Regions from separate parts of the Homo sapiens genome. Here region 2 is linked to region 1. The links come from fine-mapping of genetic effects on gene expression. Tissue or cell type: whole blood. Region 1 holds a variant in brackets; the other region holds the start of a gene. All regions are shown on one strand. Distances are from middle to middle.

Evidence for each region. PIP is the estimated chance that this variant, and not a neighbour inherited with it, causes the effect.
Region 2: it holds the start of PRKCH, and the variant in region 1 is fine-mapped to the expression of PRKCH in whole blood (TOPMed, PIP above 0.99). The same link has a PIP of 0.9 or more in lung.

Annotation. Positions count from the first base shown.
Region 1 is chr14:61,546,268-61,554,206 of GRCh38, forward strand. PRKCH (protein kinase C eta) reads left to right here. Exons shown (of 14, transcript NM_006255.5): 13 at 1,476-1,619; 14 at 3,418-4,709. The coding sequence ends at 3,564. Among named protein-coding and RNA genes, the nearest start is that of PRKCH-AS2, 4.8 kb to the left of the region's middle. RefSeq lists enhancers at 5,642-6,152, 6,153-6,662, 6,557-6,606. The variant A/G (reference allele first, on the strand shown) is at 4,658.
Region 2 is chr14:61,318,924-61,325,288 of GRCh38, forward strand. PRKCH (protein kinase C eta) reads left to right here and starts at 2,656. Exons shown (of 14, transcript NM_006255.5): 1 at 2,656-3,541. The coding sequence starts at 3,179. PRKCH-AS1 (PRKCH antisense RNA 1) reads right to left here and starts at 3,895. Exons shown (of 5, transcript NR_186042.1): 1 at 3,612-3,895. RefSeq lists silencers at 2,449-2,718, 2,869-3,038 and enhancers at 3,000-3,544, 3,545-4,088.

The DNA of each region.
Region 1 (7,939 bases):
CCACTGTAAGTGCCTGAAGTGGCAGCTGCTCTGACTGGGCCTGTGCAGCTCTGAATGCTGCATTTACTTTTGGGTCCTGCCTCCAACCCAGAACCACCTGTGGCCTTTAATTCCTGTTACTAGGAGAGAGGAGAAGCGATTAAACCCTGTCAGTATATTCATTTATTAGCTGCCCTTTGAAGCTTTTTTGAAAGCATTTTACAAGGTATATCCCGTCAGGTTGCTTAGGAACTTTTGCAGCCTCCTTCTTCAACATTATCATTTTCATTTGAATCAACACTGGCAGCTTGACACCTCTGGACACCTGGCATGGCAGTGGGAGGTACCTCCAAACACTGTCTTTCCGTGTCTGCACCTTCAACAAGATTTTCTCTGTAAATTCAGCTCCAAAACAATTTTTATAAACACAGCATTACTTTTGTGTTGTTCACAAATCAGATTTGGAAAGAGGTGCTTGGGGACTGTCATGAGTCTATTTAAAGATAACCTGATTTAAATAAAAACAAAAACAAAACTTTTTATCCAAGGCAATTTTCTTTCAATATGGGAAATTAAATTAGCTTCAGTGTCTTTGAAATTGAGAACCACACTCCGGCCATGAAAAGTGAATTATCCTGTACTAATCCTTGCTCAGGAAGTGATCAAAACACCTTTCCTGGCTATTTTGTGAAAGCAGATTTAGCCCAGCATATTTTGATAGGAGCCCAGCACTAAGGAAGTTTCCCAACTGATGGAAATACAGAGAATCTCTATGCACACATCGCTTAGCTGTGTGGCAGCGCTCGTTTTAGTTTTTGGTCTATGGAGCAATGGAATCTCAGTCATTGAACCTACTTCGAAACAGCAGTGGTGGGGGGAACATCTTGAAGAAAAGCCTTTCATCTAGAGCTATGATATCTTCGCTGCATAAAGAAAAGTGGCCAACTTTGTTTTTTCTAGAGCCAGGACACAGACCTTTTCAGTATGTCACCTTTGCTGCTTCTTCACACAGATCTTCAAAAATAACGACTCTCTCTCCTCTCTGTGGTCTCGTCAGAGAGCAGGAATCCTGGCCAGCTGGTCAGGTCACTCAGAAAAATGGCACAGCTGTTTCTGAAAGTAGCCCCATTCATAAGATGTCTGCTGCCCACAACTGCAGTGTTGGGGAAAGGCACACTGTTATAAAGAGCTTCTTTTCTTTAAAGAGGAAAGAAAAATACATGGTGTTTACAGAAAAGAAAACTGGACCCTCCTGCTTTCTTTTAGTGGCCATGTCTGAAATGGAAGTGGGAAAAGCCATAAATCCACACAGGCAATCGCGCCTTTAAGGCATGATTCATACTGACTGTGCTGCCTGTGATGGAAAACCCAGCTAGTTAAGCAAGACCTGCCAGAAAGTCTCGCACAGCTCCTCTGCCATGGCTGATGCCTGCTGTCTTGTGACGTGCTGGTTGTATGTGAATGAATGATTGACACTTTCTCTCTCTCTCACTCAGTTCATGACCAAGAACCCCACCATGCGCTTGGGCAGCCTGACTCAGGGAGGCGAGCACGCCATCTTGAGACATCCTTTTTTTAAGGAAATCGACTGGGCCCAGCTGAACCATCGCCAAATAGAACCGCCTTTCAGACCCAGAATCGTAAGTGTCCCAGGCTGTCACAGAGACATTCCTTTCTTCAGATGTCACAGCATTCCACCAAAGTCCGTAGAAGAGCTGGATGGCCCCTGTGGGTGACAGACCAGAAATTCAGCTGGATACTGCACAGGGCAGCCTCCCCTGGGGGGAATCTGGGCTCCTTGTCCATGGGACAACAATGTCTTCATGTGCCCACATTAATTCTTACCAAGTTTCACCCCTCGTTTACCCAATCTCCAACTTCTCTCAACCTAAATTAAAATCTTGTAGGGTATAAGAGGCCTGAAACTTTCCAGGTTTCCCCAAAAGAGTTTGGCTAATTGAGAAAGTCATTGTTCTGGCCAATTTCCTCATGCTCCTTGGGGCACTTTTTGTGCCTTTTCTAAGCCCCTGAGAAAGCAGAGTGGGTAGGAGATGTTGCTCACTTCACTGAGCCTGGCCTCTTGGCTTGGAGAGCCTGGGTCTGTAATAGCTGCTGCAGTGCAGAGCCCAGGCCAGGCCAGGCTTCTTTGACCAAAGAAATACTGGGATCTCCAGGGGCTCCTCTCCAAGCTCTGCAGCTGAGGCTGGTGGCCTTCCTGAGCGTGGTCCCGCTTGTGGTCTGAGAGCTGAGCTCGTGCTCATCTGTGGGTCAAGAGCTCCACAGGAGGAAGGCAGAGAAGCAAGGCTAGCGATAGATCAAGAGTGATGGGGAGACCTGGCGTGGTGGCTCATGCCTATAATCCCAGCACTTTGGGAGGCCGAGGCAGATGGATCACTTGAGGTCAGGAGTTTGAGACTAGCCTGGCCAACATGGCAAAACCCCATCTCTACTAAAAATACAAAAAAAAAAAGCCTGGTGTGGTGATGCACACCTCTAATCCCTGCTACTCAGGAGGCTGAAGTAGAAGGATTGCTTGAACCTAGGAGGTGGAGATTGCAGTGAGCCGAGATTGCGTCATGCGCTCCAGCCTGGGCAACTGAGTTAGACTTTGTCTCAAAAAAAAAAAAAAAAAAGTGATAGAGAAATATCATTGATTAAGGTAAGAGCAGTGAGATGTGTGATACTCACTTAGAAATGATCTTTGCAGCGTTTGTTTATACAGATATAAAATACTCAACTTTTAAAAACATACAGTGCACTTAATCACTAACAGCCTACTAGGCTGTTGGACACCAGGCACCCAGAGGTAAAGCCGTTCCTTCAATGGTCAGCCCCCTGCCAGCGCCCCTGGGATTAGGGAGAGCATGGCCTTCAGAGGCTGGAGCCTGTAGTCCTAACTGCACAGCTGGTCCAGCAGGGCGTAACGCATCTACCTAGAGAGTAAAATGACCAACAGTTGTTCCCTAAGCTCAGCACTTGCAAGAAATCTTTTGGGAAGATCTCTTCAAATGTCTAGAACTCTGCGCAAACAATAGGTAGGACAAGTGTGAACCTACCCAACCTCTGTTGACAAATACAGCTGCACACCCCTCAGCGAGGCCTGCTGTGAAATGCCACCTTGGTGAAATGAGAATAAAGGGTGAGTGAGCCAGCTGCTTTTGGATGACCAAATTAATTCTTAGCCTCCCATTAAGACAGGCCTGCTCAGCAAGATTTTCATGGGATTAGTGAATTGGTGGTTGCCAAATGCCATAATAATGCACCATGCAGTAGACTTGCTGTAAAGCACAGTTTCATCATAACAATAACTGTAAATAATGCTACTGAACAAGCTACAGAGCACTCCTCTGAACTCACTGGAATGGGCTATATCCCATGCAAGATGAGTAAGCCTCAAGCGCAAAAATCTCACCCTTGTTTCCCTTTTTTTTTTGGCAGAAATCCCGAGAAGATGTCAGTAATTTTGACCCTGACTTCATAAAGGAAGAGCCAGTTTTAACTCCAATTGATGAGGGACATCTTCCAATGATTAACCAGGATGAGTTTAGAAACTTTTCCTATGTGTCTCCAGAATTGCAACCATAGCCTTATGGGGAGTGAGAGAGAGGGCACGAGAACCCAAAGGGAATAGAGATTCTCCAGGAATTTCCTCTATGGGACCTTCCCAGCATCAGCCTTAGAACAAGAACCTTACCTTCAAGGAGCAAGTGAAGAACTCTGTGAAGGATGGAACTTTCAGATATCAACTATTTAGAGTCCAGAGGGAGCCATGGCACTAGAAATAGTTGATAATGAAATGAGATTTTATGAAGTATACCGCTCCACCTATGAGCGTCTGTCTCTGTGGGCTTGGGATGTTAACAGGAGCCAAAAGGAGGGAAAGTGTGAAGAATAAAGTAGATCTGAGAAATTCTGAGCCAATCAGGCTTCTTAATTCAAGAGACAAACCAAGACGTTCTGTCAACTGTGCTGTGCTCTTCTTTAAGCCAATGAACCCCAATTCCTGGCAGTCTACAAGAAGTCTCTTAATGCTAATGAAGAATTTAAAGGTCTTTTTAAGGAAATGAAGGGCTTTCCAAATAGAATGATTTACTCTGAAGAAACAAACAATGGTATCTCTGAAACTCACAACCTAAAGCCCAATCTTGAAAATATGTTGTGCACCAAGACGACTGCTTCAGCTTCTTCTCTTATCCTTACTTTCTTTAATAGATATTTATTAAACTGTCCAGTGAAAAGGTGCCACAATGCCCAGTATTGTAAACAACAGGTTTGCATTCATGAAGCTTTCATTCATTCTGGAGTCTACTAATTTACCTGAATGGTGTTTGCATTCTGTGAAATGCCTCTCCACGTTGCATATGTCACACTTTTGTCTGCACATAACTCTTTTTTCACAAGAAGGGTCACTGCCACAACAGCACAGTCAGCGGGTGAATTACAGGTGCCTGCTGCCTGCCTACCTGGGTAATCTGATCTTGTCTGTATCGCCGTGTGCTCATCACTGAAGAATTGCAGGCCACTCATGTCAGTGACCAGATTTGTGGCTTATAAACATTAGCAGTTTATTTATGTTTTAAGATGCAAAGATGTGTGTTTGATATTCACTTTAATAATTAGAAATGGATCTTGTAAACAGGGCATATATCAAAGATGACCTTATAATATGTACCCGAAT[A/G]TACAGTTCAAGAATTTTGTCTGACTGGAAATAAATGCATTTTGTAGCAAAAGGAAGTGTTTTGACTAGAATGATTTGTCTCCTTCCCACTAAGACAGTAGATTTCCAATCAAAATAAAACCTTGAGCAGAATGGGTAGAACTCAACTCACAGAAAATTCCTGAGAGGAGAGGTTGATGTAAGTTCTTCTGTGATTCTCTGAAGTAGATGTGGCCTGTCTCTTACTGACCAAAACTTCTGTCCTGAATGAGGGTGATGACTGCTAAGCATAGCTGTAACAGACCAACCCTCAAGATCTCAGGGGCTAGACACCATAAATGTTTATTTCTCATTCACATAAAGTAGCATGTAAGTTCAACAATCTTCCTCCATCTTATAACTACACTATCTGGAAAATGTAGCTTTCCAAAGTCTCCAGAGCAAGGAAGAGACATGGAGGGGGCGCCGGCTGCCTGCCTGCCTCTCCTAGGAGGGACACACCTCACCTCTTCTCACAATGACTGGCTAAAACATGGCTTCCCTCTAACTACAGACGGGATAGGGGAATTATAGAGCAGCTGAGGAGTAGCTGGCTAGTACTGACAGTCTCTTCTCTGTCATAGGTTCTTTTTTTTGCATTCCAATGCGAACACTTACTTTTGAATGAATAGAGTAGCTAGGAACTTCCCTTTCCATTTGTGTAGCACTTACCACTCATAGTCATCACTCTCACCCACATCATGCCACTAGATCTTCATGACGTGCCCACTATTCCCACTGATGATAGTGTGAGTACTGCAGTACATACTACAAATGGCAAGAGAGGCTCAGAGAAGTTGAGTTCATTGGTTTCCCAAAGGGTTCAGGCTTGGTAAAGAGTAGATCCAGCTCTAGGGTCTAAATCTTTGATGCTGTAGTCTGGGAAAGGGAAGGATCATTCTGACTTTGGGACTTTTTTGGCCTTCATAGCTCCTCCACTTTGGGTCTTCTATTGCTCTGTGGGATTGATTAACTTTTTGTTATGGTTCACTCCACTCTGGTAAACAACCACGAAAAATAAAGCATGCCTCCTGTTTCATTCACAAAACTCATTATCATAGCCACGCAGAGCCAAAACACTGTCTTTGGTAAGTCTGTGATCACTCAGCAGCTTCCTTCTTCACAATTGCTTCTCAAGCCCACTACCTGGGTTCCCCAGTTTGGGTTGAGTCCATTCTTTTGAGGCTATTTATTCCATGCCTATCAGGTTATTCAATAGCTAATGTTTATATCTGAGAAGAGAGAAGATACACAGGATATTTACCTAAAGCTCAAATGAGTCTTCAATTCCTGGTTACAATTCTACTTCACATCTTTCTTCAGTTCTGCTAGACCTGGCATCCCCTTCCAAGGGATCACAAGGCTGTCTTGCCCACACTTCCTGAAGAAGGCTGGCACAGAGCAGGTAGCGAGCCATTCAGGCAACTGGGCCAGAGTCCACTGGGGCTGCTGGGTTCCCTCAGCACAGTGGGCAGCATGGAGGTCAAGACGAGGTCACATTGGGACCTTTCACTCCCTCAGGTCCATCTTAAGACATCGTCAGGCCTTATCATCCCACTGTCCTTCCCAGCCAGTCCTCATCCCACACCCATTTGCTCCTGCTCTCCCAAGCTATTCCACGGTGACCTAACTGAATTAGACACATGGCCTTGAGTGTTTGAAAGGACAATAACTTCAAGCCTTTGCTTTGGGATGTGGGTCAGCCTTTGACTGCCAAAGTTGCTTTCACTTAATGGCTAACATGTTGCATGTTTATTACATGTGAAGCCCTGTTCTAAATACTTTAAGTGTATTTACTTATTCAATACCCCCCATGAGGTGGGTACTCTCAGTTTCATTGTACAGATGGGGGAAAGTGAAGTACAAGAGATTAAGTCACTTGTCTAAATTCACACAACTAAAGCAGTGGGGTTAGGATTTGGATCAAGCAGTTTAACTCCAGAGTCCCTACTTTTAGCTCAGTTCAGTGAGGTTCTTCTATGAAAGCGAATTCTATTTTTCCACCTTTGTGGGGTTGGCAGGAAGCACCAAGATAAACTGCCAGCTGGGCAGGACAGTATTAGCCCTCCCCTGGGTAGAACAATTTATCAGCAGTGGGACTGCATGATTTGCATATCAAGGGGCTGGAGCTGCTAACCCCAGTTCTTGGAACTGGGGCAGGCCAGGGTGATGCAATCAGGACTTCAACCTCCCTGAATAGGGGAAGAGGAAGTAGTCTGGTTCTCTCTGAATCCCGTGAGCCCCATCTGAACCCCTGGGGTAACTTCTGAGCCTTGGTGGAGTTTCCAGCCCTTTCTCCCCTCGTAGAGGAGCCACTTCATGTTTTAGTAACTCTTCATCACCCACCCCGCCAGCTCATGCAGCAGCGTCAGGAAGAAGGTGCGCAGCCTGGAACCTACCTTGGCAGCTGCATGTTTACAGCTATGAAGCTGAGCTGGTGTAACATGTTAGCAAAGAAAAGAGCAAAAATAGACCAGGCACGGTGGCTCACGCCTGTAATCTCAGTACTTTGGGAGGCCGAGGTAGGTGGATAACTTGAGATCAGGAGCTCAAGACCAGCCTGGCCAACATGGTGAAACCCCGTCTCTACTAAAAAATTACAAAAGTTAGCCGGGCGTGGTGGTGGGCGCCTGTAATCCCAGCTACTCAGGAGGCTGAGGCAGGAGAATAGTTTCAACCCTGGAGGTGGAGGCTGCAATGAGCTGAGATCACGCCACTGCACTCCAGCCTGGGCGACAGAGGGAGACCCTGTCTCAAAACAAAACAAAAAAAAGCAAAGCAAAAATAAAAGCATCCCATTTGTCATTTATTGATCTTAATTGAATCCTGACCTCAGATGATCTGCCCGCCTCGGCCTCCCAAAGTGCTGGAATTACAGGCATGAGCCACCACACCCCGGATCTTAATTGGGTACACATTGCCTTGAAAATATTCCAGCCACGGATTTGACCATTTCACATGCCAACATGATAAAGCTGTTCATTATTCCCAGGTTTGGTCATCCTGGTTGCTTAATCTAGCAATGTTGACTTAAAATGACTAGACAGCCCACAGTGATTGCCCCCGGCTCAGGGTCACACTGGGCCCTGTAACTTCTCATTTTACATCATCCAAGGATAAGACTCCAGTACAACTGTAGTAGATGTTTGTGATGAAAATGAGCCCTTTGCTGAGATGTTCCTCTGAATTGAGTTGCAAGTTGGCCAAAGCTGGCCAGAGTGCAGCTGTAAAGGGAGCTTTGTAGTCTCCTTTTGTTCCTTTGTT
Region 2 (6,365 bases), 230 kb before region 1:
CTCAAGCAGTACTCCTGCCTCAGCCTCCCAAAGTGTTGGGTTTATAGGTGTGAGCCACCTTGCCTGTCCCCAGAGAGGTATTTTAAAACACAAATCCTCATCTTACCCTGGCTCTGCTTAACAGCCTTCAGAGGCGTCCAGTGGCCCATAGATAATGTCCAAGGCTTTCCTGTGATCTACCAGTCTGGTCAGTGTGACCACCTTTGCAAGCTCATTTCAGCCACTCTCCCCTCACCTTCCTCAGCTCCAGCCACGCCTTCCTCAGCTCCAGCCACGTAGGGTGCTTTTGGTTCCCAAACAGGCCAACCCATCTGTCTCCTCAGGAGCTCTCAATGAGCTGATCTCTCTGCTATTTGCTTTTTCAAGGAACCCTTCCCTGACCACCCATCCAGTTATAATACATCACCCCTTGGCACCGTGGGCTTTTCCTTCACTGCACCCTCTTCTATTAGTTGTTTTTCCTCCTTGTGGGACTGTAAGCCCCAGGAGGGCAGGCACCATGGCTGTCTGACCCACTGCTCTGTCACCATTGCCAATCCTGATAGGTACTGATAGGGTGAAGATGGAGTGTCTGGTATCGTCATATCCCAGTCCCAGGACAGCTGTGTGGCCACCTACCATTTGGGGACTGTTTTCTTTTTAAAATTTAAAAAAAAATTTAAAGTCTACACCCCATGATTCTGTATGGGGACTGTTTTCTTTTAGCCCCAAAGTCCAACAGGAGCAAATCCTTTAGTGGCTCTTAAAGCTAGAGTTCAGCTGTTTGGAGGAAAGGGTGACAGAGCTGACCCACAGGGTAGATGCGACATCTTCCCCTGGAGCACTAAGGCCAAACAGGAGCCCCCTGGACGTTTGGGAGCAGGCTTTACAAGCCCTGCCTAAAGCTAAGATGTCATTAGAGTGATGCGTTGCATCCCTGCCTTGTTCTCTAAGGAAGCTTTGGTGTTTTCAAGACAGGCCCTTTCCCCCCTGGCCCATTGTCCTTACTTGTTTTCATTCTGTATAGTGCTGTTATTACGGGTCAGGCCTCCTTGCACTCATGTGAAATCGTTGAGAACCTACTCAATTAGAAAGTTCTGAACAGGGCCTTAGAGGAGTGGGGGCTAGAAAGATGAACCTGGGGCCAGGCACGGGGGCTCATGCCTGTAATCTTAACACTTTAGGAGGCAGGGGCTGGAAGATCACTTGAACCTGGGAGCTGGAGGTTATGGTAAGCCATGATCACACCGCTGTATTCCAGCCTGGATGACAAAGCAAAACCCAGTCTCTAAAACATAAAAGAAAGAAAGGAGGGAAGGAAGAAAGAAAGGAATGAAAGCAAGCCGAATCTGCTCCGAGGGAACCAGTATAGCAAGACAGAATGTAATCAAGTATCTTAAGAGTGGCCTAGGCTTGGCTGGGTGCTGTGGCTCACGCCTGTAATCTCAGCACTTTGGGAGGCCGAGGCAGGCGAATCACTTGAGGTCGGGAGTTTGAGACCAGCCTGACCAACATGGAGAAACCCTGTCTCTACTAAAAATACAAAATTAGCCGGGCGTGGTGGCGCATGCCTGTAATTCCAGCTACTCGGGAGGCTGGGGCAGGTGAATCGCTCGAACCTGGGAGGCGGAGGTTGCGGTGAGCCGAGATGGCGCCATTGCACTCCAGCCTGGGCAACAAAAGCGAAACTCCGTCTCAAAAACAACAACAACAACAACAACAAAAAGTGGCCTAGGCTTTTTGGGGAACAAATTGGTTGTGGCTGGCCCTCAGGGAGCAAGCTTTGCGGCATAGCAGCGTAGGCTAAAAGGTCCTCCCCGGAGACAAAATCTGCAGGGACCACGGGGTGGGAAGCATCAGAAGGCTGCCCACTCTGACTGCAAATACAACAAGCTGGAGTGTTCCTAGAAGAGGCAATTTCTTCCGCGTGTGTGTTGGGGACAGCCTGTGTGTGTGAACATTTTCTGCCCTTGCCGCGCAGAGCTGGGTGGACCAGAAACCACCCGCAGAGGAAGAGACTTATTACCTCTTGGCCATGTCTGTCTCCAGAAGAACCGACCTTTCCTGCTCTATGTGCAACAAGACACACCTTCCGAGGAAGGAGGCGAACAGGATTTCCATCATTACTACTGCCCTATTAAAACACACACATACACACAACTGTGTAATTAGCCTCTGCAGGAAAGGCGCACAAACAGGATGCGTTCGAGCTGACCCCGGGATGAGCCATCCCTGTAAATATTAGGAAAAAGAACCTCCCCGCCGTGCCCCCGCCTCCGGCCAGGGCCTCTTGGGGATGGCCCTGCAGGGTCACCAGCCCACCGGGGAGGTTGGGAGAGAGGGGGCGGGCGACTCCTCGCCGCGCGGGTTCCTGGCTGGAGCGCCCTCCTCTGCGTCCTCCCAACCTTCCATCGCTCCCCAGGTCAGTCTACCACGCCTCAGGTGTTTGCTCGGGCTGGGCCACGAACCCTTTCCTTTTTGGCCTGCGCCCGGGGTGGCCCCTAACCCGCAGCGCACGGCCAGACCCAGCGCTACAAGGAGGGCGCGCAGGGCGGCGCAAGCGGGCACTGGCCTCCCGGGGGCTTGCGCGGGGATCCACCCACCGCAGGGCCGGGCCGCGGACCGCGGGCCACGCCCCTGGGGTCCGGAAGGCGCGGGAGCGGACGCGGGGGTTCTGTGAACTTGGAACCTGGCGGTGCGAGGTTCTCGCCGGGGATGCGGCGGCGGCAGCTGCTTCCTGGTTTGAAGCTCGCCGAGTGGGGGAGAGCGTGAGCCTTCGGAGGCGGGGGCAGGAGGAGAAGCAAGAGGAGGCGGGGGAAGAGACGCTTGGGGCTGGGGCTCACCGGACGGGTAGGTCCGGCTCTCCAGGGAGAGGAGCTGCCCGGCCCTGGAGAAGGGGCGAGTCCTGCGCGAGTCCCCGGGAGGCGCCGCGCGCTTGGAAGGGACGGTCGGGCTTCCCCGGCCCGCTGAGGGCTCGGCGGCGGGCTCCCCTCCTTTCCACCTCGGGAGGGAGGGAAGGAGGGGAGGGAAAAGTCCCACGGAGGAGGCAGAATGGCCAGTCGAGGGGCGCTTAGGCGCTGCCTTTCCCCAGGGCTGCCTCGACTCCTGCACCTGTCCCGAGGGCTGGCCTGAGACGGGACTCCCGGTTCTCCCGCTGCGAAGCAGCGCGGCCCCCCGGGGCCGGGGCAGCGGCGCCGGCATGTCGTCTGGCACCATGAAGTTCAATGGCTATTTGAGGGTCCGCATCGGTGAGGCAGTGGGGCTGCAGCCCACCCGCTGGTCCCTGCGCCACTCGCTCTTCAAGAAGGGCCACCAGCTGCTGGACCCCTATCTGACGGTGAGCGTGGACCAGGTGCGCGTGGGCCAGACCAGCACCAAGCAGAAGACCAACAAACCCACGTACAACGAGGAGTTTTGCGCTAACGTCACCGACGGCGGCCACCTCGAGTTGGCCGTCTTCCACGAGACGCCCCTGGGCTACGACCACTTCGTGGCCAACTGCACCCTGCAGTTCCAGGAGCTGCTGCGCACGACCGGCGCCTCGGACACCTTCGAGGGTTGGGTGAGTAGCGGTGACCCCTTCCCTTTGTGTCCACCCAACCCCCGTTCCCCTTATGTTTTTCAAAACTCACCCGGGTCCCGCTTTCCCATCGCTTTGTGGCTGAGGGAATTCCCTCCAGACTTTGGTCTTCGTCCACGTGGCCGCGGCACTGGTGACGCGACCGCGGTGGGTGTGTGCAGGCGCAGGTGTGTCTCCAGGAAGCCGGCCTGGACACGATCCCCTTTCAGGACAGCGGCTTGGCCTAACGGGAAGTCGGGCAGGGGTCCAGGGCGGTCACCCTTTCCGCCCAGTCTTTGGGTAAGGAGCTCCAACTTTCAGCACGAGAGTGATAGGTAGGAAAGGCAGGGAAGGAGTGATACAAAAGGGACTTGATTTGGGTAAAGTGCTTCAAGCGCTACTTAGGAGAAAGCCGTACATTCTCGCGAGTATTATTCATAATGTTTATGGATACATGTTGGTTCAGCCGCTCAGACGTGCACACGTGTTTCGGCTTGCACATCCCAGAGGTACATGAGCTACACTGGCAGGGAAATGAGCGCCTGGGTCTGCACGTTGGCAGTTTTATTATTTAGCATTTTTCCAAGGAGATGAGATTTACATATACTTGCAAGTAACTTAGTCAGTCCGAGGTGGGAGTCCTGCAGTGTGGGTTTCTGCTGCTATGGGTCTGAGAAGAGGCTGTAAGGACTCCTCAGGAGGTTGTTAACTGTCTTCCCTCCCCCCATCACCAGCCTGTGTTCCTGGGTATTGACGTGTAGCTACCCGCAGCTCTCCCCTTGCCTCTGCTTTTCACATAGTTCCCAGGAGGCATAATTTCTGCTGTAAATCAATTAAAACTTCTAGAGCGCTCTACACGGTGCTAACATGCTTTTACTGCCTAATCCTCACACTGTCTTTGTGATGCAGGTGTCATCGTTCCCACTTTGAGATGATGGAATGATAATTATAATAAAGTAGTCTGGTTTGGCAAAGTGGAGTACGCCATTTGAAGACTCTCAGGAGTTTAATAGTTTAAGTTCTGGAGGGAGTCAGTTTTGAACCCAATATCAGTATTGAAAATGTTTGAAATTTACAAGTGGTGAAATCAGATGGATGGTGATGAAGGCTCATTTAGGTATTTATTTTATACTTTGTGGAATTAGTAATTTTACCGTATATTTTCTAAAATTAAAGATGGCTTGTGGAGCTATTCCTTTCTTTTAAATAGAAGTACAAAAACCATAATGACTAACCTTAATCGTCAAATTATATTGAGTTAATTTCCCTTCAGCCTAATTTACTTTGTGGTACTTAGAAGTGGGGACTAGAGAGGAATTGCTAAAATACAGTTAGATATTTACATTTATCCTGTGAATTTCTGGAAATGAAATAGAAGTGAGTGTAGGCATCCAGATGGAATTGTTGAGTTCTATTAGTGTCTGATTAGGAGTTAGGTCGGGCAAAGCTCTAGAGGAACTAGGTTCTGAATTATGGTGGTGCAGATTGGCCAGTGGCCATGAGAAGCATCTCTTCCTGGAGATAGCCTAGACTCGTCCTTCTCAACCATAATCTTCCCACTTGAATCACCCAGGGACCTTTAAAAAATCCCCACTTTTAAAGATTCTAGATAGGAATCTCTGGCTGTGGGACCCCATCATCCGTACTTTTAGGCTCACCAGGTGATTCCAGTATGCAGTCGAGGTGGAGAACCTGCAGCCTACATGAAGACCAAAAGATGAGGACTTCTTGGTGTCATAAGTGTAGGAAGATCCACGTTATCTGACTAGGTGGCATGTACAGAGCTGCTTATTGTTCCACTGGATGAATATTCAGTGTAAATCAGATATCGATATTTATAATGGTCTGAAATAATTACACTTAGATGTTTAATATAACCCACTGGTGGTGTTTTGGAAAACGTTGAGTGGTTGGTAGGGAGGGTCAGCATTTAAATGACCTTGAAACCAGCAGTTTTTCATGCGTTTGCATGCATCAGAAGGCAGATTTTTTTTTTGTTGTTTTTTTTAAAAAGGTTTTGGGTATTTCAGAACTGTAAGGATATGGAACATAGGTTGGGCAGAGTGTTGTTTCTTTTCTTTTTAAAGAAAATCTTGTTAAAAAAATTTGGAAATATATGGAATGCATGCTTTTTTAAAAAAGTATCCTTTATAGGTTCAAAAATGCTTTAAAAAAATAGAGATGGGGTCTTGCTACCTTGTTGACCAGGCTGGTCTTGAACTTGTGGCCTCAAGCCATCCTCCCACTTCAACCTCCCAAAGTGCTGGGATTACAGGTGTGAGCCACTGCATCTGGCCCAAAGGTGCTTTTGAAGTTCAGGATTAAAGAAATACTTATTTATCTTTAGTATTTTAAATTGACATGTAGTTTATTCAGAGAGTTAAATGTGGAATAATTGAATTTACTCCATAATAAATTTATGGTTGCAAGTGGAACTACAGATTACTGACTTAAAAAAAAACTATTGAAGTTGCAGGTTCAAAAAACCCCCAAAACCTAGTGACTTAGTTTTTGCTAGATCCAGAGAAGCTCTTAGCTGTAGGTTATGGATGAGAGGATTCAATATGGTTAAGATCTCAATTCTTCCCAAAGTATTCAATAGGTTCAGTATAATCTCAGTCAAAATCTAAGTTTGTTGTAGAAATTGACAGACTGACTTTAAAATTTATATGGAAATGTAAAGTACTGAGACCAGTCTAAGAATAGTTTTGAAAAAGAACAAGTTGGGGGACTTAGAGTATCTGATTTCAAGGCTAACTGTAACATGACCGTAATCAAGATAATGTGATATTGGAATAAAGAGAGTCATACAGATCAGTGGAATGAA